2 linked regions of the Homo sapiens genome follow. The protein of the gene in region 1 purifies or fractionates together with the protein of each later gene. This does not show direct contact. Each region holds a gene or a part of one and is shown on either strand. Other genes may lie near its edges. The genes, in order: IREB2 and LEMD3.

Evidence for each region.
Region 2: the proteins of IREB2 (region 1) and LEMD3 fractionate together in Homo sapiens (co-fractionation; one large-scale study listed by BioGRID). This does not show direct contact.

The regions. Positions count from the first base shown.
Region 1 is NC_000015.10:78,441,139-78,444,969, forward strand, and holds part of IREB2 (iron-responsive element-binding protein 2), read left to right. Parts: intron 1-3,831. UniProt on the Homo sapiens protein: RNA-binding protein that binds to iron-responsive elements (IRES), which are stem-loop structures found in the 5'-UTR of ferritin, and delta aminolevulinic acid synthase mRNAs, and in the 3'-UTR of transferrin receptor mRNA.
Region 2 is NC_000012.12:65,245,400-65,248,867, forward strand, and holds the end of LEMD3 (inner nuclear membrane protein Man1), read left to right. Parts: intron 1-269; coding exon 270-375; intron 376-461; coding exon 462-540; intron 541-762; coding exon 763-926; 3' UTR 927-2,956; downstream 2,957-3,468.

The sequences.
Region 1 (3,831 bases):
TGACTGCTATGTGCAATATTTTTTGTGTATTGTGAAATACAGCTATTTTGGAGTATCTTAAAGAATCCCCATTTTAGAATTAGGCTGTCATTTAAAAATAAACAGTTTGCCAAAATGAGAGCAATATCCTTTACCTTGCATGTTTAGCTGCAGTGATTTGTGTTGATACGTTTGTTAAAGGAAGTTGGTCATTTTCTTAATGTATGTCTTTCACATTAATTTTATCCCTTCACTGATGGTGAGTTTGCATTAATTTTGAAAAGAAACAGCTAGATTGATCGTTTACAAGAATAGTCATTTTATTTCCCATTTACTTCTCCAAAATAATCTAGTGATACTGGCTTGGAAGTCTTTTAACCCAAATTTCATAGTTTAATAAATTAAAGGAGCACATAAGATGTTTTGAAAATTGAGTATAAATACTTTCTGTGTATAATCTGTAGAAATGTGCTTACTTGAAGGAAGATGACCTAAATTTCTCAAATTTAAGGAATCAGTAGGAAACTGTCAAAAACAACTGTAAAATGCATTGAAAGGGAATGATTGATAATCTGAAAGTTAAATTTTCCCTGGGAAATAAGTTGTCATGGGAATTTGTACATAACTGTACAGAGTACATGTGTACTTAACATAATTCCAGAATTACCAGTTTTTATAACCATGATAAATGTAATAATAGAATACCTGTGACTATAAATACTTTCAAAACAGAAAGTTGGTTTTTATGTGGGGTCAGTACCCTGGTTTTTATTTTATTTTATTTTATTTTATTTTACTTATTTTTTTGAGACAGGATCTTGCTCTGTCACCCAGGCTGGAGTGCAATGGTGTGATCTCAGCTCACTGCTGCCTCTGCCTCCTGAGTTCAAGCGATTCTCGTGCCTTAACCTCCCAAGTAGCTGGTACTATAGGCGTGCATCACCACACCCAGCTAGTTGTAGAGATGGTGGTTTTACCATGTTGGTCAGGGTGATCTCAAACTCCTGACCTCAAGTGATCCACCCACCTCAGCCTCTCAAAGTGCTGGGATTACAGGAGTGAGCCACTGCGCCCAGCCCCTCCTGCTTTTTTAATAGAGTGCTTATTATGAGAGGTTATTAAGTAATAATTACTTAAGTAATTTCCTAATAAGGAATAAAATTTGAAGAATTGACTTTGAAAGAAAGGAACAAGTTAGGTAGGAAGTATTTGGTTGTTTAACCTTAGAACAAAAAATCCTTATTGCATTTTTGAAAGGATCAGATTGAATTGCCTCCTAGACATATGCTTACAAGAAGACATTGCTTTGGTAGTCACCAAGGTACAGAGCCAGTCTTCTCCACCTCCATTCCACATTTTGATGCCTGCTAGGTTGAGAATGACTGTTGTAATGAGTAACGATTAATGAAGGGAATGGATTCTATCCCTCATAAATGTTACAGAGTAAAGATAGTTGAGAAACACTGTTCTAAGCTCCATGCTGACTATGTCAGGGATGCCTGCAGCTGCAAAGAACTGAAAACTTGCTGTCCAATGACTTTAAGAAATACGAGTTTATTTTTCTAACATAACGAAGTGTGGAGATTGGCAGACTGGGGCTGTGCAGCACCAATCTCCGCAAGGATCTAGGCTCGTCCTTTCTTCCCGTTCTGTTTTTATTCTTTTGGTTGCACCTCCAGGCATTATGTCCAAGTTAAATTTTCCCTGGGAAATAAGCTGTCATGGGAATTTGTACATAACTGTACAGAGTACATGTGTACTTAACATAATTCCAGAATTACCAGTTTTTATAACCATGATAAAAGCCCTCTCCAGGGGCTTTTGCCTCTTTGGCCAAAGTATCAGTGGCCACTCTTAGCTTCAAGAAGGCTGAAAGATGGAATAATCAAGGTCTTCTCTTACTCATGGGGGATATGTTCCAAGACCCTCAGTAGACACCGGAGACTATGGGTACTACCAAACCGTGTATGTACTGTTTGGTATATATTTTTTTCTATACATACATAGCTATGATAAAACTTAATTTATAAATGAGGCACAGTAGAGATTAATAATAACTAATAATAAAATAGAACAGTTATAACAATGTACTGTAATAAAAGTTATGTGAATATGGTCTTTCTCTTTCAAAGTATCTTATTGTGCTGTTCTGCAGGTAACTGAAACCACAGAAAGCCAAACCATAGATAAGATGGGGTACTGTATTTTACCTTTACATCTTTTACAATAGAGAAAGGAAAGGGAGAAGTGGTTGGGAGTGGGTGGTGAGTGAACCAGCCTAATCTATCTGCGTTACCAACCTGATGCCTTCTCTTATTCTGACTTTAGATAGAGTTCAACACAGATTATTTGATTTCTGCTTTTTTACTGCCATTTTATCCTTTTGCTTCCCAAATTTATACTCAGGGTATCTCTATGGAAGTGGGCACATCTTAGACATTGATTACATTTTGATCTTGTATGATTTTGCTTGTGGGGAATCTCCTTTGTTTTTTTATTTTTTGTGGGGTTTTTTTTGTTTTTTGTTTTATTTTGTTTTGTTTTTTTGAGACAGAGGCTCGCTCTGTTACCTAGGCTGGAGTGCAGTGGCATGATCTTGGTTCATTGCCACCTCCATCTCCAGGGTTCAAACGATTCTCGTGCCTCAGCCTCCCAAGTAGCTGGGACTACAGGTGTGTGCCACCACATCCGGCTGATTTTTTATTTTTAGTAGAGATGGAGTTTCGCCATATTAACAAGGCTGGTCTCAAACTCCTGACCTCAAGCAGTCCTCCTGCCTTGGCCTCCCAAAGTGCTGGGATTATAGGCGTGAACCACTGCACGCAGCCAGTTGTGGGGAATCTCTTTAATATTCTGGAGCTGGCTGTCTGGCACTCCCAATGTGCTGACTAGAAACATGTCAAAATCTAGGTAGTCTCAAAATGTAGATTTTGAGTAACTCTTTAAAAAAAAAAATTATAAAGATGGAGTTTTACTGTCAACCTGGCTGGAGTGCTCTGACATGATGATAGCTCACTGGAGCCTTGAACTCCTGAGCTCAGGAGATCCTCCCACCTCACCCTCTCAAGTAGCTGATTTGGGTGACTCTCTTAAGTAGATCTCTGAATTTGAAACTATTGCTATTTTTAAGGAGTGGAGAAATCAGTGGTGTCTCCATGTATGATGGAGGACAGTTAACATCAGAGAATTAGAATGAACAGCATAATGGAAACATGAATGACTATGTTGAATGAAGGGGAAGATGGTGGAGAGACTGGCCTGGCTGGAGTGAAAGGTAGTTTTGAGAGAGTACCTGTTACTGGGCAACAGGGCCTCTGGTGGTGTAAAGCCCCCAGGCACCCTTTATCTCAGGTCATCTTATTCACCCTTTCTTTTGTCCTTCCTGTCTGCTTGCCTTTTTAACCACAGTACTGCTTAGTCCTCCAGTAGAGCCGGGACTTAGTGTCCAAATCCTACCTTGCAGCCTTTGGAAGAAAATCCTGTATTTAATTTTTTAGGAGAGTTTTTATCATTTAGAAGAATCACAAAAAGACAAGAACATTGCAGATGGTACAGAAAGTCTCATTTTTATGTGTATACAAAAATATATGTAAATATGCTACTTTTAATAAAAATAAAGTATATGTTGTTTTGTAACCCTTTTTTTCACTTAATATATCATGAACATCTTTCCATGTCATTGAATACAGGTATCCCTTGCTATCTGAATCTACTTGGTTTCTGAGTCAGGGAGCTTGAGTTCAGGTAGAAAGGGATACCTGTACTTCTCTGTGGCTTCTAATAGCTGCACAATATTGCCTGTATGAATGCATTGTGGTTTAGTTAACAGACCTTTGAATATTGAGGCTGATA
Region 2 (3,468 bases), on another chromosome or scaffold:
AAGTGCTGGGATTACAGGCATGAGCCACCGCGCCTGGCCAGCGCTCTGCACTCTTTTACTGGAAAGTGGGAGGAGGGCTGAGACTTCTGAATTGTAATTTTTAAATCTACCTCCTGTTAGTCAACAAGCATTTACTTAATACCAATTAAAATCGTATGTGGTTTTAAAACTATACCAATTCTAGTAATATATATATGTTGTAAGAGACAGTGAAGAATTTTTACCGAGTAGGAATATGGTTGTTGATTTTTGTTTTCATTAACTTTTAGGGAAATAGGGGATCAGTGGCATTTGGCAATTCAAGAAGCAATTTTAGAAAAATGCAGTGATAATGATGGCATTGTTCACATTGCAGTAGACAAAAATTCACGTGAGGTAAAGTAACTTTTGGTATTGAATTTCATGTTTTGGATTTGTTGCTATTAAACTAAGACTATTTTCTTTCTTTTTTAATATCACAGGGTTGTGTATATGTTAAATGTCTGTCTCCAGAATATGCTGGAAAGGCTTTTAAAGCATTGCATGGCTCTTGGTTTGATGGTAAGAAATTTGAGTACTACAAACATTTTGAAAAGATAGTTATAGTTTAATTTTAAACTATACCAGATTTCAAATAAAAGAATTTAGGTTAGCATTTTTTTGAGTAATAATTTTAGATGACTTTATTTATGTTTTGTGCTCATATGTCTTTTACCACAGTTAATTTTCTGCAAATATTAAACAGTTTTACTGATCTAAAATATTATTTTTATCTTACAACAGGGAAATTGGTTACAGTAAAATATTTACGACTAGATAGATACCACCATCGCTTTCCCCAGGCTCTCACTTCCAACACTCCATTGAAGCCATCAAATAAACATATGAACTCCATGTCTCATCTTCGTCTTCGGACTGGCCTAACCAATTCTCAAGGAAGTTCCTGAAAAGATTTTCTTCCATTTCTAAGACTGTTATTTACAATAGGAAAATTCCTGTTTGGCTTTTTGTCTTCCTTTTTAAATGCTTTTTGTATGTAATATTTTTATTGATGAATACATCTCTGAACGTTCCAGAAGTCTTAAGGTTCCAAAGGGATTTAGCAGTGAGGCAGCAATGCTGAGTAGGTAGGATAATTATTTCATTCAGTTTTTGGAGCTCAGTTAAGCCAATACATTTAAAGTTTTGCATGAGGAACACTGACTTTATTAAGCATTTTCAGATGTGGTGGTTGTATTTTTGCCCCAAGAAGTGTTTGGATAACCACACAAAAGCATGATGAAAAGGCTTCTTGTAGTCCCATAATTTCTTGTGAACTAATGTTGTGAATTTTTGTATACAGTCACCTGCATAGTTCCTACAGGCTAATGTGGTAAAACTGTTGATTTCCCAATTTAACCTTAGGTTTCTGTTGCTTATAAGCGATTCATTTGCTACGGCTGGAATATGGGAAAATTAATTTGGGCTTAGTGGTTACAAATATGTGTAAGTGGATGTATATGTACTTAAACTGGCTTTGTATATATGTATAAATGCTGGTGGTGGTGAAAGTAGTCTTGTTTTATGAGGATGTCTGCATTAAAGCAGTAAAATAAGCTTTCCATTTTATTCATAATCTAATGTGTGTGTATATATGTATGTGTGTATGTGTGTGTATATATAGATGTATATATATACACACACAGAGATATATACATATGGCTGTACTTTTGCATAGATCAAACAGCCAAACACCTGGAAGTATTAGATACAAGTTTAAAATATCTTTTATAGGTTTTATATAAAAATGTCTGAGTATGATTTTGTGTGAAAGTTCTGATACCAGTTGTAATAGAGTCAAATTTATGTGAGCAATAAAGAAGAAATTGGCAGATATTGGAAAAATATTTTGTGAAAAGCTGTATTTATTATAAATACTAGGGCCATGACATAGTACCATTGGGGTTAAGTCATTTTCCCAATCTATTTATAATTTAATGATATGTTAGTGCCTCTGTTATATGTCAAGTTTAAAGCAGGGCACATTGTTGCAGCAAAATGTGTATTTGACAAATTATACTTGCAATTTTGGGTCATGAAAGTTTGCAATATAGTAAATGCACGATTGACTGTTGCTTTGTGCCTCAGTATTTAATTTGTTTCAGTAAACTTACTTTATTACTGTTTATGATTTCAGATAAAAATAGTTGCTGAGTAAATTTTACTTGTAATCTACAATTGGCTTTTTAAAAATAACCTGTTGATATATAATTGTCAGTCCAAATGAATATGTGAAACAGCTGGAATTGTACAAATTTTGGTTGTATTTAAAGCTCAGTTTCCTTTTTGTTTTATTGTATGCGTTGGGTTTGCAGCATGAACTTGCACAGATAATGCACGTTTTCTGGTTAAGTAAACATGATGCACACTATTCTGTAACAGAAAGCCCTATTGTGCCTTACCTGTGTGCTTTTGTGGGCACCTTGTTTATGAAGAATAAAAAATGATTTGTTATCTGAAGAGAATAAATTTTAAATTCTCAGTTTATGTCTCAGATGCTAACGTGTGAAAATATAAATATATATAATATATAAAGTAACCAGTCTTCCTGTATTTTATGTGCATCATAGTGATTTATCTGAGCTTAGTGACCCCCATCTTGTAACCTGTTGCAAGAGTGAATGTAAAAAATAGTTGTGGCATTTTAAAAGGTCGCCTTTGATGCAGATGCATCTTTTTCTTGCTTCTAAAACATATTTCATGTAAACATTGTACATTTATTATTGTAATATATACTATTATGCAGCTTATTTTACCTGAAACTGTTAAGCCGACCAAGATCCCTCCCTGCAAGACAGATGGGAATGTGTATAATAACTAGGTATTTGAGAAGTTCTGAAGTTTGATGTAATCTGTTACTTGTCCTGTTAAAAAAAGGAAAAAATTCTAATTAAAAATTTATTAGTTTTTTTTTATGTGTCTTGGCTTTTTAAAAACATTTTAAGTGCCCTGTGTCTGTATTTATTTTTTTACCAGTGAAAATAGGTGTCTTTAGTTTAAATGTTTGACAGCCTGAATATTTGTGCTTATAAAGATGAATGAAGACCATAAAGTTAATTTTAACTATCCTTCCCCTCAGCATTTTATTTTTCCTTATGAAAATGTCTTCATCCAACTTTCAAGTATTTGAACCAAAATGGGGCAAGAATGTCAATCAGCTACATCACAAAGCATTAGTTCTGCTAGATACTTTTTCACAGCAAGACTTTCTTAAAAAGGAAGCATTTCTTTTTCTTTTAACATTCTGACTTGAATTCTATTGCATTATAAACTATTAACAGTTCATAGGCTAGTTACTTTACATAGCATTGGTTTAGACTTTTTGATATGTTAAGTAAAAAGAAGACTAGTCAGTCATGTGGTACACTTATTGATTACTAACAAATGCCAAGTACTGTTATGTGTTAGGGATACAAAGATGAAAAACACATGACCGAATCCTCAAGATGG